Linked DNA regions of Homo sapiens. The protein of the gene in region 6 purifies or fractionates together with the protein of the main gene of each other region. This does not show direct contact. Each region holds a gene or a part of one and is shown on either strand. Other genes may lie near its edges. The genes, in order: MCM9, KSR1, ORC3, CDC7, PCDHGA9, MCMBP and XPOT.

Region 1 (4,378 bases), on a different chromosome or scaffold from region 6:
AAATTTTAAAGTGTTAGTTTCTCATTAGAAATTTGAGCATTCATTAGCCCAATGGAAGTTAATCTGACTCCCTTAACAAGTAGCAAACATTTTTAAAATGTGTGAAGCCAAGGGTCTGTTTTCAGAAGAACAGAAACATTACCCAATCAAAACTGTAAAAATACAAAATAGCATCAAACATATTTTTTAAAATAATTTTTTTCTAAATTCCCTGGGTCACTTTATTTATAATCAAATCTTGACATTCTACCTGCAAAGGCTTTTAAGTGTACTTGCTAAAGAATCATTACAACTTATGAATGAAGCTCCACATTGCAATGATGGAAGTATATTTTCCAAATATTAATAAACATTCCCTACCTAAGAAATTTCAGTAGGAGCTACTGTTGCCTATCAGATTTATGAGCATGAAAATGCCTTAAGCTCTATACCATCTATCTACTTGGTAAAGTGAAATATCCCCCTCTTTAGTTTAACATTCCAGTTGCTGAGTCTTGATAAAATGCCAGATGATACGGACTTTTTCCTGCATAAAAGTATGAAGGTAATCACTAGAGAATGAGAAAATTGAATAGGATTGTTCAAAACTAAGATGCAAAGTGAAGGTGGAGCTTGCAAGATATTTTCTTAGAGCTACCAAAATAACATTGCATATTTCCTTCCATTTTTAGTGGTAACTCAAAAATTAGCTTGAAATTTATCCTATTATAGGTAGTTTTTCATTAGAAAAAACCATTGTGTTAACTTCTGAAGTAATGTTAAATTACTTGAAATTGTCACATACAATACCTGCACTAGTAGATCCAATTCCTGTGGTCAGCACAGATCTTGGTGTAATCTTTGCTGCATATTTGAGGAACTGAGATTTCCCTGTGCCAGGATCCCCAACCAATAAAAGATGAGATTCTCCTAGGAAAAAGCAAATACATGAAGTTTTAAATTTCTATAAAAGGGTCCATTTGGAATGCCAACAAAATATTACATAGTGTTTTTACTGTGTACTTTTACATAGGGTCGTTTGAGAAAGGATTTAACTAGAAAATCTTCAGAAAGTTAACTGTCATAAACAGTCCTTAATTGATTACTCAATGTGACATAGAATCTAAATTCTATTAATAAATTATGTGCTATTTCCAGATGTTCAGGCCTATGTTTAACATTTTAAAAAATATCTGGGGCCAGGTGCGGTGGCTCACACTTGTAATCCCAGCATTTGGGAGGCCAAGGCAGGAGGGTCACTTGAGCCCGGAAATGTGAGACCAGCCTGGGCAAGACTCCATGTCTACAAAAACAAACAAAAAATTTTTGGCTTATAAAGTTTCTGATTTACTCTATTTTTAAATATCAAACTACTATGATTAAATCCTTGCATACAAGTCATATAAGTATTTTATTCTATTTTTATTTAAGCACTTAGAAGTATTAGGGATTTTACAAGTACTTTACAAATATCAAATTATGATTCTAACAGTTAAGTGAAGACCTTTTCATTTATGAAAATTTTAGTAACTTAGTGAAATATGTATCTTAAAATAAGTACTCATTTTGCAAATGTAACATAAATAACGTGCATATCCTATGGTACATATGATTTCACTGACCAAGTTTCTTCAGCAATTCTCAAGTGTTTCCTAAATACATTAATAGGAAACCCCTATTTAAGCTCAACATTTGGCAGAGTGCCTTGCAAAACAGTAGGTGATCAAAACATATAAGGACGCCTTATACTTACTATTCTATACTGTACTATATGGTTTTCGAGTCCCTACTAACAGCCTGATTTATAACAATGCCCTTTTAGTCTTTTGGTTTAATTTTTGGTTATTATGGCCCACGTACAGGGCCGTAATAACCCGTATGCCAGACTCTGGTTAAGTGTGTTAGCTGCAAAAGAGCTTTCTGCCATCTGGACATAATTATACACTTAAGAGTAATCTTTTCTTGAAGGTGTGACCTGCAGCAGCACCCCATGGCAGATGGCACATTTGCTATCTACCAGCAGAAGGAGAATCAGCAGGCAGATGACTGAAAGCAGCAGTCTAAGAGAAACACAGTGACAGCCACAGATGGAGAGACGCTGACTGGAGACATTAAAATACACTATTTCTAATCTTTTTCCTTTTGAAAACAGACCGGGGATCCAACAAAAAACACAGTAATAGAAACAAAGATTTTATTTTGTGGCATCCTTATAGGCTATAGCAAAAGTATATGCCATAGAAAAATGTAACTTCTTTCAGTCTTTCTGGAACTCTAGAAAGTAGCTTCTGATATACAGATGCTAGACTAAGTATAAGATATTCAGACAACTGTCAGTTTTATAAGATTACAATTGGAAAATAAAACCCAACGAGCAGTTTTTATTTGGGAAAGAAAAAGTTCTAGCTTCCATCCATGTGTCAATATTACTCAAAATTTCTAAATAGGTACTAACCTCTGACCCGTGTTCCTGTAGCATCAGTCCTTTGAATCCCACCAGCCAGCACCATGGCCACAGCAAGCTTTACTAGATACATTCCAAACACTTGAGGGCACAAGCTAGCCAATATTACATTCCTTCCTAGGAAAAGCAGAAAGATCAGAAATCAGCAATAATTTTCAAGAAACCCCAACTGAAATTTCCCTTCCTTTCCTATCTGACCATCCTCATTTAAATATACTCTACTATGTGAAGTGATCAGGAGGTCCAATTCCAAATGACCAACAGGATTAAAGGAGGAAATAACTTTGTTTTGGTTCAAAATGTCCTGTTTTTTTGAGACAGGGTCTCACTCTGTCACCTAGGCTGGAGTGCAGTGGCGTGATCATAGCTCATTGCAGCCTCAAACTCCTGGGCTCAAGCAATCCTTCTGCCTCAGCCTCCTGAGTAGTTGGGACAGCAGGTGTGCAGCACCACGCCCAGCTAATGTTTTTTTTCTTTTTTGGAGCAACGTGGTCTCACTATGTTGCCCAGGCTGGTCTCACTCCTGGGCTCAAGCAATCCTTTCATATCAGCCTCCCAAAGTGCTGGGATTACCACCCAGCACTCATGAGTGGTATGAGCCACCGTATGTACTTTCTATGTGACAATTTCAGTAAAATTACTCCACTGCCTAAATAAAAGGAAGGTATTCAATCTCAGAAATAATGAGTCAGATCATACAAGTCAGTAATCTTTAAATACAGAGGTAGCTGGAGCTCATGAAGCTGCTCCAAAGGTATAAGAAATAAGTAAAAAATCCACCCTCCAAGTCAATTCAGCATTTGCTCTGAGCAGTCTGGTAAATTCTGTTTTCTCTGGAACAAAGTTACAGGGGCATCAAGGCATTAAGAAGATCACTGCACACCACAACCCTAGCAGTGTAAGTATGAGATCTCGAATTCTTCTGATCATGTGCTTTAAATAAAAGAACATCACTGTTTGGGGTTCTGTTTTCAGAAATAACGCACCAAATCTGAGAATCTGCCTATCTCTTCCATGAATAAAGCAGGTATTTCATTCAGTCATTGGCCTAACCAACCTATGGAATTCCAACAAGCCATTCCTGAGCCTTTCCACGACTTATGGCCCTATACACAAAGGCTACTTTTTGTAATGAATCAACATTGATTCAGTGGCAACTAATCTATGATGATGTGGCCTGCGATGGCAGAAATGGTGAAGAAAGAAAATCTTTTAGTAAAAAAGGAACCAGAAGATTTAGTAAATCCAGGAAGTTCATTACTTGCTGAAGGAATCCCTCCCTGTTTGGAGTTAGAAAGCCTGGAGAAAAGGTCAGGAATCCAAGCAGATAAGACTTGACAGCAGGTAGGTAAATTGTGACCAGAATCTAGTGATTACATGTGGAAGGAAAGAAGAAACAGCCCCAACAAACAGGTTCAAGAGTAGGCAAATTGATCTGGGAATTACATAAGCCAAAACTTAGAGCCAATTTTACTGAGTAACATGCTGATGGGAAGCATATCCCTGTGGTAAGAGGACAGGCTCTGGTGTCATGTTTGGATTCAAATCCCAGTGCTATTAATTACCAACTGTCTGACCTTAGGCAAGTTTCTTAACCTCTGCCTCCATTTCTTGTCTGCAAAATGGAGATTATAATGGTATCAAGACAGAATTGTTGAGAATCAAGGGAGTTAGTAAGTATACAACACATTAAATAATAACTGGCATATAGTGGGAACTACTTAACTGTAACTGTTAGCTATTTTATTACCTGTATTATTTGTGCATCTTTCTGATCTAAAGATTTCCTCACACTGTGGTCAACACAAAAGACTACAAAGGTAGGACTGGGGTCCCAGAGAGAAGCAAAAAGGAAGGGCCAAATGTGTTGTCTAAGTTGAAAAGCTTGATTCCTTAGATCATGGCAGCAGAAGATCTCATGGCTATATCATGGAA
Region 2 (4,378 bases), on a different chromosome or scaffold from region 6:
GCATAGACATCAGCAGCTTTGGAGAATGGCAGCTGATCCTCGTCCTTCCCGGGGGTCATCTCGCGTACAATCTCAGGGGCCAGATAGCACAGCCAGTCGTGGGACAGCTTTAGCTGGTTCTCACGCCTGGAGACCAGGAAGCCGGGACAAGGACACAGGCCTTTCAGCAGGCAGCAAAGAGGCCTGCCTGGCACAGGTCTGCCCCAGGGCCGGCAGAACACCCACACACAGCTTAGAAAACACACCCAGACCCAGAACACTGACCCTGCACTTGGGAAAGGCACCGGTGCTTTTGAGGAATTCTACAAAGGAGTCATGACCGGTTGTTTCTAGAAAAGCAGGGCAAGAATGGATAAATATTGACAGGGAGCTGCTGGTGAAGGTGCCCAGCTCCCTCTGCTGGAGAATGAGGCGCCTCTCTAACCAGGAACCCTGATCTGCCTGTGGATCTCAAACTTGGCTGGGGCTGGCCTTGCAGCCTTGCTGCCATGCTCCCTTTTGGGTTCCCCTAGATGTGAGGGGAGGGGCCTTTCTCCCTATGCCAATCCCTTCAAGATTTGGGGAAATAAAATTTGACACTCTTCCTCATCGTGGGGAAATGACCTGGTTCCTTGGCCAAGCGGGTGAACAGCCAGGGCAAATGTGAGTGTGGGGACCTGGTTTCCGTGGAAGTCGGCCTGAGAATCCAAACGCGACCCAAATCTGATTCTGAACCAGAACTACGAGGGCAGGACCAAAGCGACCTGGGCTTCCCTGCAGGGAGGGCTGCAGCTCAGCAACAAACAGTGAAAGTGCCCAGACCTCAGCCCTGCTCTTCCCCATCCAGCACCCACAACCCACCCAGACACTCAAGACCAACTCACCGTCCCTCTCGGACCACGCCTGAGATCCCAAACAGCCCGAAGTCTGTGATGACCACCTTGCCGTTGTCATAGAAGACGTTCTTAGATTTGAGATCTTTGTGTACGATGCCCTTGGCATGAAGATATCCCATGCCCTGGAGGACACATCAGGAGGAGTGAAGATGTGCAACGATGACGGAGGTGCCACCCTGGGCTGGATGATTTACCTAAATCCCCATATTTGATCTTCACAATTCCATGCAGTATATTGTCCCCATTTTACAGAAGAAGAAATCGAGGTTCAGAGAGGGAAAGTCACTTGCTCCAAGCCACACAGCAGTGAAGAAGCAGAGCTGAGATCTGATCCCAGACCGGTCTATGCTCTTTTAATGTTACCATGCTTCTAAACAACCATGTTAACCTTGGCTAAGGTAGGAGGTGTGAACAGGGTGATGGGCAGGGAGCCGGGGGGTCAGGGACAGTGAGATTTATCAGTGTACAGTCATAAAGGGCCTAAATGAGCTGGGGTTTTCTGTCAGGATATGCACAGCTGGTCTGTGCTCTCAGGCAGGACAAGGGCTCAAGGTGGGGGAACAGAGAGGCATTCCCACAGCGGGGTCCCCAACTTTGAGTGCTCCTAATGTCTGAGCTGTAGTAGAAGGAGCCCTGGACTAAGAAATCTGGGGTTTGAACTCCATCTCAGCTCAGATTCTCACTCACTCTGTGGCCTTGGACACAGTGCTCAACTTCTCTGAAGACTGGTTTCCTCACCTATCAAGCGAAGAGGTGGCAGTGGGTGATTTCTAACCAATGCTCTATTTGAACTAACACTGATGAGTCAGGTGCATGGAGCGTGGGTGACCTGACATAGGCATGATCTCATCCAAGGTCAAGCTGTCTTCAAACACCAGACCCAGGGCTCCTGTGTACCCCACAGCATGGATTATCGCGTTTTTAACCTCACACCAATCCAGAGAGGGAGGATATATGAAGATCCCCATTTTACAGGGGAGAAAACTGAGGCTTAGAGAGGCTAAACCTACCCAAGGTCACACAAAGGGTGTGACCAGGATTGAAACTGGCCTCTAAAGCCTGCCAAGTTCCTTCCCAACCAAGTCAATTCCATCAAGCCTAATCATGTGGACAATCAGCTCCCAGCTCTGAATGAATGAGACAGAGACAGGGAGGAAGAGATGGGGTCCCACCCTTGAGGAGCCTGAGCTAGAAGGAGAGGCAAAGCTGCCCAAACCACCCTAACAGGGAGTAACAGGGCGAGAGGAACAGCCGAGAGCCCTGGAACCGGCCAGAAACCCACCCCCAGCAGCTGGGCACCCCCTCACCTTGATGATCTCCTGAGCGATTTGCCTCGTCTTGTTGATGTCCAGAGACGTCTTGGGGTCCCTCACAAACGAGTGCAACGTCCGCCCCTTGCAGAAGCTGTCGAGGGTGGTGGGGGTCAAGCACAAGTCTGGGGCTGGTGCGGCCTGACCCCAACCCTGGTGGAGCCCATGGGGAGAACTGTGCCCGTCTGCCTGCAAGGACTCTCTCCAGCCCCTCGACTGTGAGCCAAATCTTCTTTAACCCAGCCCAGTCCTGCTGGGGCCTGGCCTGAACGTGCAGAAACACATGACACCACACACGTACACGCACACAAACCCCCATTCCCTGAGAGCCAGTGCCTGCCCATCCTACAACAGGAAACAGTGCATCAAAGCTCTCAGGAACTCAGAGTAGCCATGCTTGGTGGGTTCAAGGCAGGACCACTCTGATGGGGAAGAACTTGGCTAATTTAAGGGCATCAACAGGCAACATCAAGGCTCTGGGGCTCACTGTCAAGAATCTCATTATAGTTTTCATTTTTTCTTGATCACAGGGTTTTTATTACAATAAAGGAGTGTGCAAGGAGGGAAAGGGGGTGGGGTAGATGTTAGGGGCGTCAAGGTGACTACTGGAAAAGGAGCTTCAGTTCTGGGGTCGCCACCTGCATCAACTCCTAAAACCCCGGGTGAGGAGGGACCCAGAGAGAATGTGGGTCCAAGGGAGCTATCTTAGGAAGGGACTATGTTTTTAGGAAAATATTCTTGGAGTCTCAGAGCCTTTGAAAACCAGGCAAGGGGTAGAGAATATTGGTTGGTGATTTCCTTATCTGTGTCCCACTTTTCTTCAGCGTATTCTAAACAAAGTAAGATTTTTTTGTTAATGAATATTTTCCTGTTTCAGGCAGGCCACAGTGGCTCACGCCTGTAATCTCAGCACTTTGGGAGGCTGAGGTGGGCGGATCACCTCAGGTCAAGAGTTTGAGACCAGCCTGGCCAACACGGTGAAACCTCATCTTTACTGAAAATATAAAAATTAGCGAGGCGTGGTGGCACACGGCTGTAATCCCAGCTACTTGGGAGGCTGAGGCACGAAAATTGCTTGAGCCTGGGAGGCAGAGGTTGCAGTGAGCCAAGAACACGCCACTGCACTCCAGCCTGGGTGACAGAGCGAGACCCTGTCTAGTTTATCATTAATTAATTACCTGTTTTGTTTTTCATTAACTACTTTTTTTTTTTTTTTGAGATGGAGTCTTGTTCTGTAAATAAATTACGGGACCACCAGTGATCAGCTCTTGATTATACAACTCTTCCCAACTCTACTCCACTCCAGGAGATAACATTGGTAGTCTGAAATTGACCATGGTGAGAGTATTTACACCACAGGAAGTGATGGATGTTATAAATTAGGGCTTCCCTCCATACTGCCCCAAAACTGGTTGTTACACATTTACCAGCACACCACTGGGTTCAGCCTACGTGATGGGGATACTGTGCAGGTGTTAGAAGAGAGTAGACCTCAGACCCACAATCGGGTGCAGGAGGCAAGGTGTGAGCCAGCATGATCTCTCCTTTGTATTTTTACAAAAAGGAATAAACAGTTTAAAAACGTGAGTATATGCAAATGTCTTCCTTTTAACAGAAGGAATGTTAACTGTTTATAGTGTCTCTGACTTTGGGGAGAAGCGCTCAGTTGCAGTGGGAGAAGACTGGCTTTCACTCTGTACCTTTTATGGACATTTGATCTTCTGTAAACTTAGAAAGGTCTCACTCTGTCACCCAGGCTGGAGTGCAGTGGCATGATCTTGGCTCGCTGCAGCCTTGACCTCCTGGGCTCAAGCGATCCTCCTGCCTCAGCCTCCCAAGTAGCTGAGACCACAGGCACAGGCACCTGCCACCAGGCCCAGCTAATTTTTTTGTAGAGACAGCGTCTCAGTATGTTGCCCAGGCTGGTCTCAAGCTCCTGGGCTCAAGCAATCCTTCCACCTTGGCCTCCCAAAGTGTTGGGATTACAGACATGGGCCACTGCACCAGCCCATATTTATTTATTTTTTAGTGTCAATGCGGTTATGTGATTAGGAAGTTATACCCCATTTTTGGTTTTCTTCTTTATGCCTCTATTAGAACTTCCACACCCTCTAGGGCATCCACACAAACAGGGCTCCCTGGGAAGGGGGAGGCTGAGCTGGCCATCCAGCATGAGGTCCTAGGGCTTGGTTA
Region 3 (3,286 bases), on a different chromosome or scaffold from region 6:
TTTGTTCCTAAAGGTTTAACTCAGAACTGAAATATACAGCTTCTTATAAAGAGTCTAGAGGTAGTTTTAAAAACTATTATATGGAAGAGATGCAGTTCTGAGTGAAACTGTATTAGAGCTGATATTTGGGTTTGTTTCATTCGTTTGTTTTTGGTTGTTAATTTTGCTTTTAGTAAATGGTTCAGTCCTCTACAGAGAGAGGATTGACAAAAATGTTATAGTGAAAATTGAAGTCCAACAGAGCTTAAAGGAAAAAATATATATATTATATATAAAGAAAATAAACCTGTGCTTATCTAAACATGGATGCCTGACTGGCTGTTTCAGAGAATACCTTCTGCCTCCTGAGACACAGCCTCTCCATGAGGTGGTGTACTTCAGTGCTGCCCATGCCCTTCGTGAGCATTTAAATGCTGCTCCGCGAATTGCCCTCCATACTGCACTCAACAATCCTTACTATTATCTCAAGGTAAGATGAACATTTAGTTTTCTGATAGTTTAGCTCAGACTCTGGGCGTCATTGTCATAAAAATATACTAAATTTGCAGTTATGTTTTAATGAGCAGAGAGTCGGCAATTCAGGGTTGCACGTCTCATATATTTTTAAAAATTCTTTAGACTGTAGAAAAAAATTTCTAACCCCATAAAGATAGCAATTAGTAGTCAACTGTTGCTGCCAGTTTTTGACCATGTGTAATCTTTGCCCTTCACATGCTAAAGTCAGATCATAGGCACAAAGACTTGAGAGTATAATGTTACCACTCTTGTGAAAATAAAAGAAATGTTTCCTGTAAACATAACAGCAGACAGGGATTAAACAATATGGCCTAATAAATTACTGAAAGACCGAAATGGTTGTTTCTAGTGGGAAAGAGAAATACTTTGGGACTTCATCTTGGATTTTAAAACAAAGAAAGGTCTATTCTGAGAGCATCTGCAGAGCTGAGTGTAGAGGATAACCAGCAGTCTGCCACTAAAACTCCTGGGGCAGCACACTTCAGCTGCCCTTGCTAAAGTCCAGACACAGTTATCAACTCCTGGAAGCTCTTTAAACAATAGTTCAAGACAGCTCACAATTTTAGAAACTAGCTTTCTTATGACCGGGCAAAATGATCACTTTAAACATTCAATAAGCTGTATATACATGAAAGAGTGGTAAGTTAAATACCCAGAAATCTTGCCACAATAAATACTTAAGAAACAACTCCGTAAGACCTATGAAGAGCATTCCAGTGTACTGGCTTCTCATTGCAAAACGGCACACAAACATGCAGAGTATTACAAGAATATTGAGTAGGACGATATAAGTCAATGGTTTTCAGTGATGGTGAAAACCACTGAATAATTTCATACTTAACCAAAAAATCAGTTAATTTTAATATATAAACCATAAATTAAAACTTACAAAATCTGTCTTCTTCTTGGCTGGTGGGTCACAGAAGAGAACTGGTATGATTTCAGTTGTCTTTGGGTGGGATATATTATAATATACCCCTGATATTATAATATCAGAGCAGGGTGTGTATGTAAGACTTTGTGTTTCTCAGTAAAAGCCATGGATTTCAAATAGGTTGAAGAAACACTGATGGTTTCTATAGGGCTTAAGGTCTGCAGTGTTGACAACGTAGTCTTTTCTTTAAAAGAAATTTATACCCCTGGTAAGTGGTATTAGTATTTACTAATACAGTATAGTAATTGTTAGAATTCAGCTAATTATAAGTGTTGGAAGTACCATTTTATTAAGTATTCCTAAAGATTTCCATAAACTTTTTACATTAAGTGCATTCAGGTCTGAGAAATTAGTAATTTATGGATTGAAATGAAAAATATGCTTATCTTCTAATCCTGGGAATATTCTTCTAGTGACTAAGAACTAGAGGGGTTATGACCAAGACATAAACCTAAACAAGAACTAGCTAACTATTGAATAGACTCACTCACTAAATAAGGGAAACCAAGATTCCATTTACTGGTTTACTCAGTTTAGGTTGGGGGCTTCATTAATGTCTGATTTTATTCCTAATAATTTATAAAAGTTAGTCATCTTAGTTTACTGTTAATTGTTAGAATGAAGCACTGAAAAGCGAAGAAGGCTGCATTCCGAATATCGCCCCAGACATCTGCATAGCATACAAACTGCACCTAGAGTGTAGCAGGCTCATCAACCTCGTGGACTGGTCAGAGGTAGGTTGTAGGGAAAAGAACAAGCTAGATATTTTTCTAACCATCCATGATGACTTTCTCAGAATAGTTTTATACTTTTAGTGCTTTGGAATTTATCTTGTGTTTAATGCCTTGTCTTTTATTTGGAAAGCATAAATCATTTCAAACTTTAAAAGTTCCTTAGGAAGTGGTAGTTCAACAGTCCCCACTCCCAATCCCCTGCCCTCTGATCCTGAATTCCTTAACCAAGCCAATTCTGTGTTCATGCTAGGTCAAAATAAGTATGTGATCTAACCCAATAGTTAGCATTAAGCAAAAACTAAACAATTTAGGTCAGTTCTGTTATTTCACAAAATAAAGTATATTATTAACTAGCATTTCTCTTCTTGCTTAAAAGAAAAAAAATTGAAGTAACTACACAACAGATTTAGCAATCAGGAAGTATAAGGAATACTTGGCAAGGCAATAAACAACTGTTGTTATTCTTTAAAATAAACAACTATTCTTTCTGTCTTCAGAATAGTATTACAAAGATCTTAACTCTATTAAAGGCCTTACAGATGTCTTGTCACCATTAAAAAATATCCATAATTGGCTGCTTCCAAGAAAAATAGATATTTTCCTGGAGTAAGATTAGTAGAGGAAACAGGGCTTTCTTGTTCTTTTACCTTTGACTAGCTTCGTTTCTTTTCTCTGCATACTCTTAGTTCTCTGAAACAAGATTATTCAGGAACCATTACTTTATCTTTTAATATATAAGTGGTTTAAAGTGATCATCAGTGTAGTTTTGACAATCTTAAATTTGATATAATGAAGAATATGTGCCAGCTATCAACAGCCATTAAAAGAAGTATAGTAAAAGATGTTTGGCAACTGTAGACATTTTTATTTTCTTCTGTCTTGTCTATTCAAAAGGCTTTTGCAACAGTTGTGACAGCTGCTGAAAAAATGGATGCAAATTCTGCAACCTCAGAAGAAATGAATGAAATTATCCAGTATCCTTTTAAAACCATTTCTACAATGTCCAACTACACATAAAATATAAGTTTATAATTTCTCCAGGTCTACACTAGATATTTATAAAGGCGTACTCCAAACAACCGTATTACTTGTTAATATTAAC
Region 4 (4,378 bases), on a different chromosome or scaffold from region 6:
TTGTTGACTTCCTAGTATCACCAGGTTATCTGCTCTCTGTTCCTTGGGCTACTGTATCACCTTTTTTTTTTTTTTTTTTTTTTTGAGACTGAGTCTCACTCTGTTGCTCAGGCTGGAGTGCAATGGTGCGATCTTGGCTCACTGTAACCTCTGCCTCCCGGGTTCAATTCTCCTGCCTCAGCCTCCCCAGTAGCTGGAACTACAGGTGTGTGCCACCATGCCCTGCTAATTTTTTGTACTTTTTAGTAGAGACGGGATTTCGCCATATTGGCCAGGCTGATCTCGAACTCCTGACCTAGTGATCTGCCTGCCTTGGCCTCCCAAAGTGCTGGTATTATAGGCATGAGCCACTGTGCCCGGCCCTACTTGCCTTTCTTAGCTCCTTTGGTACCTCTGCCTGCTCCTTCAATGTTTTCTCCAAGCCTTAAGTGCTGACGGATATTCCTCAGAGTTTTAACTTCTCCCTCTGTATACTCTCCCTGATTGGTCCATCCACTTCATGGCTTCAACTGTCATTTATATAATGATGACATTCATCTGTATTTCTAGCCCAGCTCCTTCGCTGAGCATCAGACTTAACTTTGATTCTGCTGGAAATCTCTATTTGGATGTCCCACAAATACCTCAAACCAATTATACCCCAAACTAACCTTACCTTCCCCTATAAACCAGTTACTTCTCCTTTACTCTCCACCTTGGTTACTGGTACACATCCAAGTCTCCCAAGCTAGGAATCTGGTAAACATCCTGAATGCCTTTTTCCCTCACCATACCACACCCTAATTCTACATCCAATTATCCACCAAGCTCTGCCTTTCTAACCCTTCACTTTTCTTTTCATTCCTATTACCAATACCCTCATTCACATTTTCATCCTCTCACCCGGACAAATTCATGCCACCACTCTCCAAAAGCTAATCTGTTTGCACGCCTGCCAGAATGATCCATCTAGGATATACCATTGTCACTTTTTTCACTTAACTTTCCAATATCTACAGTATATAGTCCAAACTGTAACAACTGTGGTCTGACCTTGTCTACCTCATTCCAGGTTTATCTCTCACCATTCCTCAACTTGCATCTTAATATTCTAGCAAAATTGGACTTTTTTTTTTGAGATGAAGTCTTGCTGTCGCCCAGGTTGGAGGGCAATGGTGCGATCTTGGCTCACTGCAACTTCCGCCTCCTGCGTTCAAGTGATTCTCTTGCCTCAGCCTCCTGAGTAGCTGGGATTACAGGTGCGCACCACCACACCCAGCTGATTTTTGTATTTTTAGTAGAGATGGGGTTTCACCATGTTGGTCAGGCTGGTTTCAAACTCCTGATCTCAGGTGATCCGCCCATCTCAGCCTCCGAAAGTGCTGGGATTACAGGCATGAGCCACCGCGTCTGGCCAAAATGAAACTTTTTTAGTTTCCTGTATGCTGTTTCTTGAGTTCCTTGGCTCATGCCTCTATGCTAACTTCTCAGCCCAATTTACATTCTAAGAGGTCATTTCTTTCATGAATTGCCTTTCATAATCTCTTTGGGTTAGGATAGTTAGATACTCCTTAAATACCCTGAATAAGTTTTATTACCATACTCAACAGGTTATTTTATAATTATTTGATGGTGTCCTGACTAGAGTGTGAACAGATGGTCTCATTTATTTATTTGTTATCATTAGCAAGCAAGAACAGACATTCAATGAATGAATACATTTCTTCAAAGCCCATAATCCAAGTGAATAGCAGGATTCATCTATTCATTCAAGATGTTTCCTGGATTCCAGCTCCATGGTAAGTTTTTAGATTACGGAAGACATTTTTCTTTTTCAAAACCTTCTAACTGCTATTATATTGTTTATATAATAACAAAAGTAATTTTAATCAAACACAAATATATCTACATCACAGGAAACTTTTGAGGTATTAAGCAAGCAAATAAAATGCTTTAAGTCTTTGGCTGGCAAAAACTATTAAACATAATTTTTTCCCCCACAAAGGTGATGTCAGCAAAATTCCACAGATTACATTTTGCGTATTTATTTACAAGATGGTAAGATCATCTTGTAAATAAATACGCAAAATGTAATCTATGGAATAAACTGTTTAAACAAAAAAAGAGAGGCAACATTAGGATTAAAAACTTTCATAAAGAATAGCATTAGCTCAAAAATAGGAATGCCACACTGCAAGAACTGCTTACATAATTAAAAGCAGAAGAACTCAAATATTAGTTATAAATAGACAAAGATCATAAAATAAAATACGTCTGGAACAATCCATTTTAACTAGGTTCTGTATTTCCAGTACAACATACCTGTAGTTTGATTGGGGCACTTTGTCAAGACCTCTGGTGCTCTGAATCCTGGTGTACCTGCCCTAGGGGCAACCTGCTGACGCCTTATGATGAAATAAGATTTCTCTAGTTATGTTAAAGTTGAACTATGTAAGTCTAAAAAATAACATTCATCAATTTAGTTCACAGTAAATTTTGCCTTGATACCTATATAATAAGTGTTACTATAAAGTAAATGATAATCTAGTGTGATAAAAATCCTAGATTTTTCTTCTTCTGTTTTTTACCCCCTCTACTAGTTCCCCGGACTTACTCCAGAAAGGTTTAAAATAACCTCCAAGAATAAAAAGCAGTAGTGGATAATAAGAGCCATAATAGAAAAAATAGAACCCAATAGCAATTCACAGGTATAAAAATTCATTTGTTTGGAGTAATTGATCACAGATACACTTATATATTTGAGTTAATCAAGAAAGGCTTTATGAAAGCCAAGCCTTGAAGGAAAGGAAGAAATTTATGAGTCAAAGAGTTGGAGGTGGGAGTAAAAGAGGAGCTCTACTATTTGGTTCTGGTTACTCCACATAAGCGGGAATAAAAAGAGAAAACAGAAAAGACTACATCAGCAATCAAAATGTGTGATTCTAAGCTTCTAAAAGCCACCCCGTCCCACTTATTTGCATATAAGAGCAAATGTGTTTTCCAGAGTATATCCATATTAAATAAATAATATATGAAAACTGTTATCATTTGCTCTTCAACATACTACTGCTCTGCATCAAGGCCCATTGCAGTTCACTGATCTGAACTGATCCCTTGCACTCACAAAATTATCCACCCAAGTCAATGCAATTTCTAATGGCAGCATGCTGGTGATTTTATAACACCATCAAAACACATTACCTTGAAAGGCAAATACTACAAACTTTATCTGTTGCATAGCAGTCACAGGTCAGGCTAGCTGGGCAAGAACTGGCAGTTTTCCTCATCACAGCACTATTCATAACTTTTGTAGAAATAGCCTTCTTTTTTGTTGCTAACTTTCTAGACAGTACATCCACAGTCTTTGACTGCTTCATGAGCTGTAAAAGAAAAGTCTCATTTTTCTATTTTCATGATATTAAACATGATGTCCTAAAATGCTAGTATGGCAAAAAGCAATAGCGGAAGCATAACTTTAAAAACTGCTGAATGGCTATTGGACTGTAAATAAACTGTTGTCTATTAAAATGTTTAAGGTCTTCTTGGGTTTTTCTGTAAAGTCACCTTATATTAAAATTTACTAATTAGTCCTAGCTTGGCCAATATTTGAGTTATACTTTATTAGAACTTTTCCTGATATATTACAGAAGTATAAAACAGTTATGTTCTAGTGTCTAACTCCATTTCAGAACTGTAAACTGCACAAGTACGTTGGCTAAAATCACAGTTTTAATTTGTTGCTCATGCTGTCTAGCTGTCACAAGATATCATAAGTCAATCTGAAATCATCTACATTGATGATGATTTTGTTAACTTTACAAACATCTTTACACTATCAACTATGTGTCAGAATAGTTAGCTAACTGTATGGAGCTCACACTCTAGCAATGACAGAAAGCCCTTAATGTTCTAAATGTTCCTCTAGAGAAAGACAGTAATAGCTAACCAAAAATGAGAAAAAATTCCACCAGAAAAGTTCAGAAAAAAACTGGAGAAAACAAGTTTTGACTAAATGCTTAAAGCAGTAATACCTTCTGCCAAAGCCAAACTCTAGTTTAAAAAAATTTCTGATAATAAATGTTAATCTAGTTATTACCTAAATTCTCTTCAGTGTATGACTGACTGACCATTATGCTATTAAGCTACATTACTTACTTTCACTGCAGGGCTCTCATGTGAAATGGAGCTGTGTATATTGAAATTTCTTTCTCCAAAAACAGAGCGCTGGACAGAAAGGCCTACAGATCCCTCCTACAATACCAACAAAAACAAGGAAAATAAGGATTATATCTGTAACACTTTCTGCCAGCTGTACTCTGCCATAGTTTTGAAAGAGTTAAGTGAGATGAAACAAAAACAGCTGCATCCAAGTCATTCTCAGGCACCAAACCACTTCTGT
Region 5 (5,114 bases), on a different chromosome or scaffold from region 6:
TGCAGGCTGAGAGCTACCCCATGAAGTATGGTTTACGTTGACAGCAGGTTAATTATTATGAGAACATGAAAGTTATATCAGCAAATATAACTAATAAATGCCTCCTTTCAGTGTTGGAGCAACAATTAGGCCCAGTGAAAAGTGATGAGAAACACACTGATATCAACTTATACTACCTTAAGTACAGACAGTTAAAGAGAAAGCTAACTATAATAGAAAGTTAAGGGCCAGGCGCAGTGGCTCACGCCTGTAATCCCAGTGCTTTGGGAGGCTGAGGTGGGTGGATCACTTGAGGTTAGGAATTCAAGACCAGCCTGGCCAACATGGTGACACCCCGTCTCTACTAAAAACACACAAAAAATTAGCCGGGCGTGGTGGCACGTGCCTGTAGTCCCAGTTATTCTACTTGGGAGGCCTGTAGTCCCAGCTACTCTACTCTAGTCCCAGCTACTCTACTTGGGAGGCTGAGGCAGGAGAATCGCTTGAATTTGGGAGGCGGAGGTTGCAATGAGCCGAGATCACACCACTGCATTCCAGCCTGGGTAACAGAGTAAGACTCTGTCTCAAAAACAAAACAAAACAAAAAACAAAAAAAGAAAAGAAAGAAAGAAAAAAAATGAACTCACCGGAACCAAAGGGGTGTCTTCTATAGGAAACTTGGAATCAACAGAGACGCACAAAGGCTCATTTTTCTCACAGCTCTGCTGGCTGATGAGTGTGTCTGCATAGTTGGGCTGGGGGAAGATCAGGTGACTCTTCCTTGAGTCAGCGGTGAGGGAGAACTCCTGAGAATAGGTCTGTAGGAAAGCTCGAACCCCATCTACACCCACAAAGTGTGAGGTGGGCACACCAGCCAACCCATCACTGGTAGCCCGCAGCAGATGCGAGGAGTGCCAGTGCCTCAGCCTGAGGGCCAGCAGCGTGATAACGAAGGTGAGGAAGACACAGGAGACGACTGCCACAGCCACAACGAGGTAGAGGGTAAGGTCTGAGGCCTCCAGGTCTGCAGGGATCTGAAGACTGCCCAGGTCAGCCAGGATGTCTGGGATGCTGTCAGCTATGGCTACTGTGAGCGTGACAGTGGCCGAGAGAGGGGGCTGGCCATGGTCCTGTACAGCCACCACAAGGCTCTGTTTGAGCGCATCTCTATCTAGCAGGGCCCGAGCTGTGCGCACTTCACCTGTGTGCAGCCCCACCGAGAAGAGCCCTGGCTCACTGGCCTTGAATAGGCGGTAGGAGAGCCAAGCATTCTGGCCTGAGTCTCTGTCCACTGCCACCACCTTGGTCACCAGGTAGCCAGGCTCTGCAGAGCGGGGTGCCAGCTCCACACCAGTAGAACCATCAGTGGGGAGGGCAGGGTACAGGATTTCTGGGGCATTGTCATTCTGGTCCAAAACAAACAGTCTCAATGACACATTGCTGCTAAGTGGTGGGCTTCCACTGTCACTTGCCGTCACCTGCATTTGCAAATCTCTAAACTGCTCATAGTCAAAGGAGCACAGAGCATACAGCACACCAGTGTCTGAGTTAATAGAGACATAGGTGGAGAGAGGAGACCCTTGGATGGTATCCTCTGCCAAGGAGTAAATAACTCTAGAATTCTCATTGCTATCAGGGTCATAGGCAATCACGGAGAAGATGGAAGTACCTCTGGCGTTGTTTTCCGGGAGGTAGACTGAGTAGGAGGCTTGAGAGAAAGCAGGTGGATTATCATTGATGTCAGTCACTTGCAGGGTGATGTGAATTTCTGTGGACAGGGGCGGAGTTCCTCTGTCTGTTGCAGTCACCGTGATATTATATTCTGAGGCTTTTTCTCGGTCAAGAATTTGGGCCGTCAACAATCTGTAATAATCTTCTTCTGAATTTTCTAATGTAAAAGATAGATTCTCCTGGATAGAACAGACAACTTGACCATTCTTCCCGGAGTCTCGGTCATGAGCATTGAAAAGAAGAATTACTGTTCCCTGAGGTGCGTCTTCTCTCACTGGGCTAAACAGAGATGTAATGGTCACTTCAGGTCTATTGTCATTTACATCTTCCACCGAAATGAGCACTTTTGTCCACCCTTTCAATCCCCCACCATCTTCAGCTTGTATTTCCATTTCATAAAATGAACATTCTTCATAATCTAGACTTTTTGCTGTTGATATTTCCCCAGTATTTTCATTAAGCTGGAATAGCAGAGATTGTTTTTCATTAATTTTCCAGAATTTGTATGCCACTTTTCCGTTGATTCCCTCATCCAGGTCGCTGGCTGTTGCAGTAAGCAGCCAGGTGCCTGGGGGCACGTTCTCAAGGACTTTAACTCGGTAAATCCGTTGAGCAAAAACCGGGGCATTATCATTTGTATCCAACACTGTCACATGGATGCGCACTGTGCTGGAGCGACGCGGCTCGCCGCCATCCGAGGCCGTGAGGACCAGGTGGTGGGCAGTTGCCTCCTCCCTGTCCAGGGCGCGCTCCAGCACCAGCTCTGGGTTTATGGCTCCATTGTCTCCAGTCTGCACGTTCAGGGAGAAGTGGTGATTGGGGCTGAGCTGGTAGCTCTGGAGGGAGTTCACGCCAACATCCGGATCAATAGCTTCTGGAAGTGGATAACGTGCTCCAGGAACCGCGATTTCGTTAATTTTTACTTCCAGACTTTCGGCCTGGAACTTTGGGGCGCTGTCGTTAATATCAGTTACTTCTATTTCTATTCCGTACAGTTTCACTCTGTCTTCAACCAGGACTTTAAAGTTCACCAGACACCGCGGGCTCTGAGCACAGAGCTCCTCCCGGTCTATCCTACCCGCGGTGACCAAGGTGCCGCTGCGCGGGTTCAGAGAGAAAAGCTGCGTCCTACCTCTAGAGACGATGCGGACTCGGCGCTCCGCCAGCTCCCGGGGCTCCAGAGCCAGGTCCTTGGAGATGTTGCCCACAATATAGCCCTTTTCTGTCTCTTCAGGCACTGAGTAGCGAATCTGACTGGCCCTGGCCTCCCATAGCATCCCCAGGAGCGAGCATAGCAGGACTAATCTTCCGCGGAGCTGGCATTTGGTTGGAGCTGCCATTGCTGCCTCGCTTTGGAATTTTCTCAAAAGGATCTCTGTGCGCGCTGCTTCATCAGGTTCTTTCTTCCACCCTGCAAAGTATGGTGATCTTTTCCTTAGAAGAAAGAGGCTGAGTTTTGCTGCAGCCTGGGAGCAGGTTTGTGGTATCTGCCGGGTTTTGTGTAGCCGCAGAACTGGAAATCCGGATGGAGTCCTGATTTTCGCTTAGAGTTGATCAACAGCGGCGCTCAGAGTCCTAAGCCGTTACTACACCCACTGATGTGTAACATTATATCAGATGGCTGATAAAGAAAACACTACTCTCTTCTAATTATGATTTTAGATTTCTCCAATTGTTTCTTGCATTTGTATTTCAAAAGCAATCTATTTTTTAGATATCTGAGTTGTAAATAAAGTGGAATAAAATTTCTGTAAGTGTATTATAAAATCACAAACCATTGCTTAATATTAATTTATTCTTATTCTTGGTAGAACTTTGCACTCTATTTCTAGATATGTAAACTATTATAATTTCCTTTTTATGATGCTTCAATTTTTTCTGTGTATCTTAACAATTTTCTGAAGTAATTTTTATGTGCAATCTTGTTTGGAAGTACATTCATTTTTAATTTTTATACCTATATATTTGTAAATGTAAAATATATAATTGTATTAATACATATATAAGGATAGATTATCCACTTTGAAATTATTTTCTGGGGTTTATTTTGATGATAAAATTCCTGGAAAAACGTTTATTTTAAATTTTTGTATTATAAAAGTAATATTAATTCAGCAATAGTTACAGATGTTCTCGCCTAATATTGCTAAATATTAACAGGATTAAAGTTGGAAATTTTCACATTTTTGTAATTGCTTAAACTTTTCTGCTATTTCAAAAATGCTTAGTTTTTTAATGTGAATATGTAATGCATGCACAGACTGTGTTTCAATGATTCAAATGCATATACACTGAAAAGCAAGTTTCTATTTTAATCCTTCATCAATAAATTATGCAATTTTAAAGTGGTCTTAAACATTATTCTAAGCATCACTTAAACTTATATAATAATTTGGGAAAAAGAACACAAAATATACAACAAAGAAAACTACTGAAAGGTTAAAAGTAAGTGGTATTATAAGAAATCTCAGCACTTTGTAAGGAACCCATTTACTGAATCACATACTAAGGGAAACCAAGCAAAAGACTTATACCATGTAATGGGAGCTTTGTATGTACACAAGACTAGTAGTTTTTGTCTTAAAAATGGAATAATCCTGTATTCACCTTCCATCCTACAAGGATGTTGAGAAAACATCCAGTCATTTATATTTAAAGCTCCAAACGATAAGACAAATCCGGTGTCTTTTTCCCCTTCTTCAAGAATATGTCAGGATTCCGAGCAAGAGAAATTCAGGCAATAGCATTTCCTTTTTTTTGTAAGTTTCTTCTGGTAATTATATAGAGGTGGAAAAGGATTTTGCATCCAAGAAAACCTGGATAAACTTAGAAAATTATTTGGATGATTTGGACCTTCTAAGTTCAGTGAATCAGTCTCTCTCTTTCTCTCTCATACACATAACATGTAGTATTTTTCTTCTTCTTCCTCTCCTTCTCCTTCCTTTTTTTTGAGATGGAGTTTTGCTCTTGTTGCCCAGGCTGGAATGCAATGGAGTGATCTCGGCTCACCGCAACCTCCACCTGCCAGGTTCAAGCAATTCTCCTGTCTTAGCCTCCTGAGTAGCTGGGATTACAGGCGCCCGCCACCACACCCAGCTAATTTTTGTATTTTTAGTAGAGACGGGTTTTCACCATATTGCCCAGGCTGGTCTTGAACTCCTGACCATGTGATCCAACCGCCTCGGCCTCCCAAAGTGCTGGGATTACAGGCATGAGCCACTGCACCCAGCCAACATATAGTATTTTTAATAAAATTTTAGGAGATTCAAAAAATCATAAATCCATTAGGTAGGAATAAGAAAGCATATATGAGGAACATAAGAAAGAGATGAAAACTACCAGTGAAATCAGTGAAGAAAGACATCTACTAGCAGTTTCTTTGCTTTAAAAGATGAATTAAATGA
Region 6 (3,830 bases):
TAGAGCTGGGATAGTAAGTTTTAAATTTTTTTTAAGACCTAGGAATACTTTGTGAAAACACAGAGCACGTTAGGAGACAAGACCGTATGGTAGTTACACACAAGTCAACAGCCAAGTTAGGCTTCTAAAAAGAAATCGTTGAAGAGTCAGAATTGGAAAGTGGCTCACTCTTTGAAGCTTAGAGAACAAGCAGCATGCCTGTTCCACTGAAGAGATCACCAGCCAAACTCGATTCCCCCTCAATGAGCCCTTTCATACAGCGTTTTTAAAAGGAAAAGTTCATTTCCGTTTTTAGAATTCTGCCTCAGTTACTGCTGAATAACTCAGAAGACATATACACAAGCTTACCGAAACAGCAATAATGGACGTGCGCCACTTACCGAGCCACCACGAGCAGCTGGTGAAGATCATCAGCAGTGATGCTCTGAGGGTCGTTCTTCCGCATTTCCACAAAGTCATCTTCAACTGCCTTTATCAAAAGAGTAAATGTAAATGATGTGCATTTTTGTAAGGAAAAGAAAATTAACATGGTTCCTTGACTGATGTAGTAAGGTGCATGTCAGCCTCTTAGACAAAGGAGGCAATATGGGTGAAAGTACCAAAGCATATACATACATAATGCTGCTGATGAAAATAAAATAATGAAACTCAGATTCATTTAAGGTCAAGCAAACATATAAATCAGCAACTGGCATAGGAAACAATGCTTTTCCACAAAGGAAGAGTGATGTTAGTGAAAATGGCAGAGAAGGGACCGCAGAAAACTGTCTCTACTGTTAACACTGATCAAAATCAGCTTTTTAAAAACTAGAAATAAAACCATACTTGCAGCAATCCAGAGAGCATTTATGCAAGAAAACCAGGTGATTATTGGTAAGAATGTTGAGCCTGGCAGCATTTTAACATGTCCTACTCCTAAATTCCAACCCCTTCCCCTCCAGGCGATAATTAGTAGCTTCAAAAATCAACAGCCTGGCAGCCACCGGAGAGAGAACAGGGCTAGGGCTCCTTCCAAGTGCCATTCCCGGAGAACTGTCATCTGACCACCTGTCTGGTGGCTCCCTGGAAGGACCCATTTGCAAGGTTGTCTTTATTTAACCTGACTGGAAGCCTGTCTACTATGAACCACCTCTTTCCCCAGGGCATTTATCAAAAACAATCGGAAGAAATTACCAATCACCTTAGCTACCTGAGACACTGGGTAACAGCTGCGGCAGACAGACTAACCCAAACCCTTCAATGGAAAAGCTAGCTGGGAAATGACATGTCTGTAGAGGGCTCTGAAAACCTTAAGTATGTAACTCCTAGGAACTCAGAAGGCTGCAGACATGCTCAGAGACCATAGCTCCCACCTCTGCATGACCTGGAGGCTCTGTGCGAGCAGGAAATGAAGGCTAAGGCTTGTAAATTGCATGGCTAAGTGTTGAACTGAGGGCTTGCCCCAACTTTTATTTTTATTTATGATTATTATTCACCCGTAGACTGGGAGACTACTACCCAGCATTTAAGGAAATTTCTTTCCAATCATTAACCACAAAACTAACAGAGCAGAGACTTCAGTGCCCACATGTGACAAAGATACAGACTTTATAGAATTAGTCAAAAAAGTTACTAAACAACCTACCAACAGTAACAAACAGCAACAACAATAAACCCTAGGGAGGTTTAATTTCCAGAGTAACTTCCAAAGCAGAGTTGCCATATTATATAATTTAAAATGTCTGGTTGTGGCTAGATGTGGTGGCTTACACCTGTAATCCCAACACATTGGGAGGCCAAGGTGGGAGGACTACTTGAAGCCAGGAGTTGACCAGCCTAGGCAATAAAGCAAGACCTCATCACTACAAAAAAAAAAAGAAAGAAAAAAAAAGAAAAGAAAAAACAAAAAAACAAAACTTTAGTTGGGCATGGTGGTGCACACCTATGGTCCCAGCTACTGAGGCAAGAGGATCACTTGAGCCCAGCAGTTTAAGGCTGCAGTGAGCTGTGGCTGTGCTACTTACTATTCCAGCCTGGGTGATACAGTGAGACCCCACTGACCAAATAAAATGTCTGGTTTTCAACAAAAAAGTACAAAGAAACCAGAAGGTATGGCTCACACTTTGGGGATAAGGGAGTCAGTAGAAAACTGTCCCAGAGGAAACTCAAACATTAGACAAAAAGACTCTAAATTGGCTATTTTAAACATTCAAAGAAATAAAGGAAACCACATAAAAAGAACTTCAGGAAAATATGAGAATCACCAAATAGAGAGTATCAATAAAAAGAGAGAAATAATTTTTTAGAAGAAGGAAATAAAAATTCTGGAGTTGAAAAATATAGTAAAAATTCTCTAGAGGTGCTCAGATTTGATCAGGCAGAAGAAAATCACTAAATTTGAAGATAAGTTCACTGAGATTAGTCTAAGAAACAGAACAAAAAAAGAAGAATGAGGGAAAATGAACAGAGCCTTGAAGACCTGTGGGATACCATTAAATGCAACATCAGATACACAGTGGTAGTGTCAGAAGGAGAGCAGAGAGAAATGAGGCAGAAAGAAACATGGCCAAAACCTTCCCAAACTTGTTGAAAACTTCCCCAAAATATGAATTATTCTGCACCTCCAAGAAGCTCAACAAACTCCATGTAGGATAAACTCAGAGATCCACACATAGACACATCATAATCGAAACTGTCAAAAGCCACAAAATCTTGAAAGCAGTGACAGAAAAATGACTCAGTGTGTACAAAGGATCCTTATCAGAAACTAGTTGGCTTCTCAGTAGAAACCAGAGGCCAGAAAGTGGTGGGAGGACATATTCGAAATGATGAGACAAAGACTATAAACCAAGAATTCTACATCCAGCAAAACTAGCCTTAAGGAGAAATTAAGACATTCCCAGATAAACAAAAACTTAAAAGAGGGCTGGGCGAGGTAGCTCACACCTCTAATTCCAGAATTTCGGGAGGCTAAGGAGAGAGGATCACTTGAACCCAGGAGTTCGAGACTAGCCTGGGCAACATAAAGAGATCCCCTATCTGCACACACACAAACACACACACACACCCAAACAAAACAAAAAAACCCAAAAAACAAAGAATTAGCTGGGCACAGTGGCACATGCCTGTGGTCCCAACTACTCAGGAGGCTGAAGTGGGAGGATCGCTTGAACCTGGGGGGGTTGAGGCTGCAGTGAGCCATGATCACAACACTGCACTCTAGCCTGGATGACACAGCGAGACCCTGTCTCAAAAAAAAAAAAAAAAAAAAAAAAGAATTTGCACAAGTAGACCTGCCATGCAAGAAACACTAAAGACAGTTCTTCAGGCTGAAATGAAAAGATACTAGACAGTAACATGAACCCACATGAGGAAATAAAGGGTGCTGGTAAAAGTGATTGCATAGGCAAATAGAAAAAATAGTACAGAAGTCTTTTCCATTTCTAACTTTTTTCTCTAAAAGACAACTGCAAAAGCAGTAATTCTAAATGTGTTGATGGACATACAATGTACTGAGAGGTAATTGTATGACAGGAGCACAAGGGAGAGGAGAAGGAACGGAATTATAAAGGGGCAAAGTCTTTGTATAATATAATTAAAATGGCATTAGCCACACAAATTTTTTTTAAATTAAAAATAACTAAACAAACTGGCATTAATCCCTAATAGATGATTATACTAACATGTTAAGTTTATCCCCCAAAGACAACTACTAAGAAAATAACTTTAAGAAACTTCAAGGGATTAAAATGGGACACTGGAAAATACCTATTTCAAACAAAAAGACAATAATGGAGTAACAGAGGAATAAAAAAAGACATGACAGAAAACAAATAACAAAATTACCTTAT
Region 7 (4,378 bases), on a different chromosome or scaffold from region 6:
AATAAATATAAATTCCATCAGTTAGATAATCAAACCTGTTTTCTTACAGCAGCAACAACACAAAAATGCCCCGCAGCCTTCATGGGGTTATTATGAAGAATGAGAGCAAGTGCTTTGTCAAGTGCCATACTACTGAGAAATTGCAGAGGATGAGTTAAGGGTGTGATCATTTTATAATATGCAATTATAAAATGGCACGTGAAGGGCACTTTTCCTATTTAATAGCACATCTGCTATTAAAGCGGTGATTATAAAAGATAAAACATACTGTGTACCTTATCTGATCTACTGTTACACAGGAGAGTATTTCAAGTCTTTAATTATATCATGTAAGTTCCCTAAAGAGATTAAAATTGGAGTACAAGTGCATGATATGAATTTTGAAAAATATTAAGTAACTGAAAAGGTCAAAGCTCGAGGAAGTTTTTTATCTCTAAGTTTATGAATTCAGGGCCTTGTAATCACAAGTAACAGTGCCAACAAGGAGCAAGAGTACTCTAGAATGGATGCAGCACCAAGTCCATACGCTCTCTACCAAACTGTTGGGAAAATGGGAGTTACTTCAGGCACTCTTCCCATCAGCATGTTGCACCAGATGCAGGTTTCACACATGGCAATGGACAAATAGTAGTGAACATCTTGTGACAAGTATCTCCAATAGACAAGAAAATTGCACATCAACTGGAAGCACTGCTAGATGATTTGACAGCAATTATGTATGAAACAAAAGCTGACATGAGGTAAAAGAAACATTAGCCTTAGAGAAACCTAATTTCAATTGGTAAATATTTTTAAAACGGTGGTGTCTCCCACTAGTGATGAAATCAGTTTATGGGTCCTGAACAATAATTTTTAAAAATGAAATAGAGAATATTAGATATTCTGTACTATACCCTAGCAAGAATATTACTTTCTGTAACTTGTTTTAGTTATTTATGTGCATATGTACCTATAAATATATACACACACACTGGGTCATCGAGATGTAAAGTTATTTTTTTCTTTGGGTTACAGATCAAAGCCACTGTATTTATATTTAGGTGATAGTTTCCTATACTATGTAACTGTATGAATGAGGGAATGGGTTTTCATACATGGTCTCAATGGCTGCTCCCACTGACAGAAGACCAGGTAAATGAAGATGATTAGGTGAAGATCACCAAATATAATATTAAATATATGGTATAACGAAAAAATACATTTGGGCTTTGCAGCCAGTTGCTGGCTCAGAGCCCTTAAAACTCTTGGAAAATTTCCTGAGCGACAGGACCGTCTTTTGTTATTTATAATGAGTCCTTTGGGCCAGGCACAGCAGTTCACACCTATAATCCCAACACTCTGGGGGGTCAAGGTGGGAAGATCACTTGAGGCTGGAAGATCACTTGAGGCCAGCAGTTCAAGGCTAGCCTGGGCAACATAGTGGGACCCTGTCTCTACAAAAAATTTAAAAATTAGCCAGAAGTGGTGACGTGCACCTACAGTCCCAACTACTTGGGAGGCTAAGGTGGAAGGATCACTAGAGACTTCGGGGTCAACAGAGTTTATGTTAATGAGGTAACTTGGTGTGGGAACACTAGACAGCCTCAGGATACAGCTGGTTACCAGAAAGATCAACTGATTAGAGTGTTGAAACTTTTACCCTAACCACCAACCTCTGGGAAGGGGAGAAGGGACTCAAGATTCAGCTCTATAAAAACTCTTGAACTTCCAGGTTGGCAAACACATCGAGATGCTGAGAGGGTGGTGTTCCTAGAGAGGGTGGTGTTCCTAGAGAGGGCACAAGAGCTCTGTGCCCCTTCCCCTATACTTTGCCCTATGCATCGCTTCCATGTGGCTGCTCATGAGGTGGATCCTTCATCAGCACAAGAAAGTCAACTGTTTTTCTAAGTTCTGTAGGCTACTCCATCATCAGAAATATGAGAGGTTCTGGACTCAATTAGTGTCTTAAGTGGGGGCGGTTTGTAAGACCGAGCCCATAACTTGTGGGATGTGATGCTAATCCTGGTAGTGTCAGAATTGAATTGATTTGTAGGACACCCAGTTGGTGTCCACAGAAATCAAGAGAGTTGGTTGTTGGTATTGGAAAACAGCCCAGAGTAAATAATGTCTCTCTTTAGAAGTTAAGACTATAAGAACACAGGCAGCTATAAAAGATAGTACTAGCTTAGTTGTTTCTAACAGCAGTCCATGAAACATAGGGTATTCTTTAGGAATATCTCAGAGGCCAGAGGACAAGGTAGAAGTTAATCATGTATGTTGCATTACCACCTAATATTTCACTTACAAAAGAGGGGAGAGGTGGTTTCAGCTGCTAGAAATGTCATGACATACCATTTTCTTTAAATAATAACAGGTTTTAAGCCAAAGACGAGTGTTTTATTTTTTAAAAAGGAGGAGGCTGGGCGCGGTGAGTCATGCCTGTAATCCCAGCACTTTGGGAGGCTGAGGCAGGGAGATCACAAGGTCAAGAGTTTGAGACCAGCCTGACCAACATGGTGAAACCCCGTCTCCACCAAACATACAGAAATTAGCTAGGCGTGGTGGTGTGTGCTTCTAATCCTAGCTACTCTAATCCCAGCTGAGGCAGGAGAATCTCTTGAACCCGGGAGTTGGAGGTTGCTGTGAGCCAAGATGGTGCCATTCCACTCCAGGCTGGGCAACAGAGTGAGACTCTGTCTCAAAAAAAAAAGGGCGGGGGGCGGGGCAGGGGTGAGAGGAAGGAGAGGAGAGATAACGTGGAAGTTTTTAGTTTTTAAACAAAGCCTTTGTATTCTGAATCTATGCATTACTAACAATTAAAAAAACAAAATTCTACAACACTGACAAACAAGTCCTAGCTTTCACCACCTAGTTCTACCCCATACCTTTTTTCTAATGGTTGACTGACTCTATGTGACAAGAGTCAGTTCAACTTTTATTGCCCATGTAAAAAACAGAGAATTACAGATAGACAACTGAGCAATTGGGGTTGGCAGACAGTCATTCTTCTCACCACCAAACTGAATTAAGTTTCCACTACTCCCGAACTGCAACAAAAGGGCTTTCAGAATTCACTTTAAGATTTCTTCCCTTTCATCCTAATAAATTGTTATTCAGATTGGCTAAATGGATACTGAATTATGCCTGGACCTGGATGCTTAAAACACGTATGTGACAGAACCCATTTTTACTGACAAAAAGCAGAGCTTCTGTATTAAAACCACTAATAATGTATTGGTTTTAATTTTCTGAAAAAGAAATCATGGCACATTTAAAAAAATTGGATGCTGGAACTTAAGAGGCAAAGAAAATGCCTCTTTCATCCAAAAATTGGATGCTGGAACTTAAGAAATGAAAGATTTCAAGAGGCACATAAAAATAACAGTAAAGGCCATTTAATAACTAAACATACAGTCAAAGGCTTTTAATTACAAGCATGCAATACCAAGCTAGACTAAAGGTAAAGATCTATGATACTTCAACTATGTTTGAAGGTAGGTAGCATAAAACCCTATGACAAGAAAGATTTGTTTACACACAGAAGACATGGATTTTAAATGTCTTTTGATGTCCTAACTTGTTTGATAGGTATCTTGTAATTAGCCAGATACTTAAATCTCAATTCCTATTATTTTCCTGTATCTGAAGGGCTCGTTACTTATTTAGTAGCAGAGACATGCACATGGTACTGTATTAGAAACTAGTTGGGATTGTTTTTTACTGCTTTAAAAGATTTTTTTCTTAAAATAAGAATAAAAACTGCTATAATTTTTAGTGAGATTGTTAACCTCATTTAGCTCATTTATAAAAAGTATTCTTTGCTATGAAAAGTAAAAAGAAAATGCCTCTTTCCTTTCCACTTACCCTATAGTTCCAAATGCCCACGTCTTTAAAAAAAATTAATTATAGGCTCATTCTTTATATTTTTCTATCATTCAGCTATAGTCATGATTATAGTTGTAGGCTACATTATATTTAATTGTTTACATTTATCCAACTATCCCAGCACTTTATAATGGATTCTTGTCATGTAACCATTTTACTTAAGACATAACCTATCATAACTGCTTATTTATGTCTGCCTAGACCAAATAACAAGAAAGTTAAATATCACTAATGTGGCCGGGCAGGGTGACTCATGCCTATAATCCTAGCATTTTAGGAGACTGAGGTGGGCAGATCGCTTGAGCTCAGGAGTTCGAGACCAGCCTGGGCAAGATGGTGAAACCCTATCTCTAGAAAAAAATTAAAATAAAAAAAAAATCATTAAGGTAAGTGTTAAAACAGCTTGTATAGATCAAGCCAAGGAAAGAGAAAATAAAATACACATGTCTGCTGCTATGGAAAGTCTCTTAAACGAATCCTTTGCATTACAATTTTTAAATAATTAGAAATAATG

Evidence for each region.
Region 1: the proteins of MCMBP (region 6) and MCM9 purify together in Homo sapiens (affinity purification with mass spectrometry; one study listed by BioGRID and IntAct). This does not show direct contact.
Region 2: the proteins of MCMBP (region 6) and KSR1 purify together in Homo sapiens (co-immunoprecipitation; one large-scale study listed by IntAct). This does not show direct contact.
Region 3: the proteins of MCMBP (region 6) and ORC3 purify together in Homo sapiens (co-immunoprecipitation; one study listed by IntAct). This does not show direct contact.
Region 4: the proteins of MCMBP (region 6) and CDC7 purify together in Homo sapiens (co-immunoprecipitation; 2 studies listed by IntAct). This does not show direct contact.
Region 5: the proteins of MCMBP (region 6) and PCDHGA9 purify together in Homo sapiens (co-immunoprecipitation; one large-scale study listed by IntAct). This does not show direct contact.
Region 7: the proteins of MCMBP (region 6) and XPOT fractionate together in Homo sapiens (co-fractionation; one large-scale study listed by BioGRID). This does not show direct contact.

The regions. Positions count from the first base shown.
Region 1 is NC_000006.12:118,910,861-118,915,238, forward strand, and holds part of MCM9 (DNA helicase MCM9), read right to left. Parts: intron 2,561-4,378; coding exon 2,435-2,560; intron 910-2,434; coding exon 790-909; coding exon of another isoform or gene 764-789; exon of another isoform or gene 1-763. UniProt on the Homo sapiens protein: Component of the MCM8-MCM9 complex, a complex involved in the repair of double-stranded DNA breaks (DBSs) and DNA interstrand cross-links (ICLs) by homologous recombination (HR).
Region 2 is NC_000017.11:27,605,815-27,610,192, reverse strand, and holds part of KSR1 (kinase suppressor of Ras 1), read right to left. Parts: intron 2,280-4,378; coding exon 2,183-2,279; intron 998-2,182; coding exon 864-997; intron 127-863; coding exon 1-126.
Region 3 is NC_000006.12:87,662,676-87,665,961, forward strand, and holds part of ORC3 (origin recognition complex subunit 3), read left to right. Parts: intron 1-327; coding exon 328-469; intron 470-2,067; coding exon 2,068-2,184; intron 2,185-3,078; coding exon 3,079-3,158; intron 3,159-3,286. UniProt on the Homo sapiens protein: Component of the origin recognition complex (ORC) that binds origins of replication. DNA-binding is ATP-dependent. The specific DNA sequences that define origins of replication have not been identified yet.
Region 4 is NC_000001.11:91,513,800-91,518,177, reverse strand, and holds part of CDC7 (cell division cycle 7-related protein kinase), read right to left. Parts: intron 4,231-4,378; coding exon 4,135-4,230; intron 3,360-4,134; coding exon 3,181-3,359; intron 2,437-3,180; coding exon of another isoform or gene 2,427-2,436; exon of another isoform or gene 2,385-2,426; coding exon 2,302-2,384; intron 1-2,301. UniProt on the Homo sapiens protein: Kinase involved in initiation of DNA replication. Phosphorylates critical substrates that regulate the G1/S phase transition and initiation of DNA replication, such as MCM proteins and CLASPIN.
Region 5 is NC_000005.10:141,400,889-141,406,002, reverse strand, and holds the start of PCDHGA9 (protocadherin gamma-A9 isoform 1 precursor), read right to left. Parts: upstream 3,226-5,114; 5' UTR 3,051-3,225; coding exon 627-3,050; coding exon of another isoform or gene 564-626; exon of another isoform or gene 504-563; intron 1-503. UniProt on the Homo sapiens protein: Potential calcium-dependent cell-adhesion protein. May be involved in the establishment and maintenance of specific neuronal connections in the brain.
Region 6 is NC_000010.11:119,831,632-119,835,461, forward strand, and holds part of MCMBP (mini-chromosome maintenance complex-binding protein), read right to left. Parts: intron 470-3,830; coding exon 381-469; intron 1-380. UniProt on the Homo sapiens protein: Associated component of the MCM complex that acts as a regulator of DNA replication.
Region 7 is NC_000012.12:64,410,343-64,414,720, reverse strand, and holds part of XPOT (exportin-T), read right to left. Parts: intron 1-4,378. UniProt on the Homo sapiens protein: Mediates the nuclear export of aminoacylated tRNAs. In the nucleus binds to tRNA and to the GTPase Ran in its active GTP-bound form. Docking of this trimeric complex to the nuclear pore complex (NPC) is mediated through binding to nucleoporins.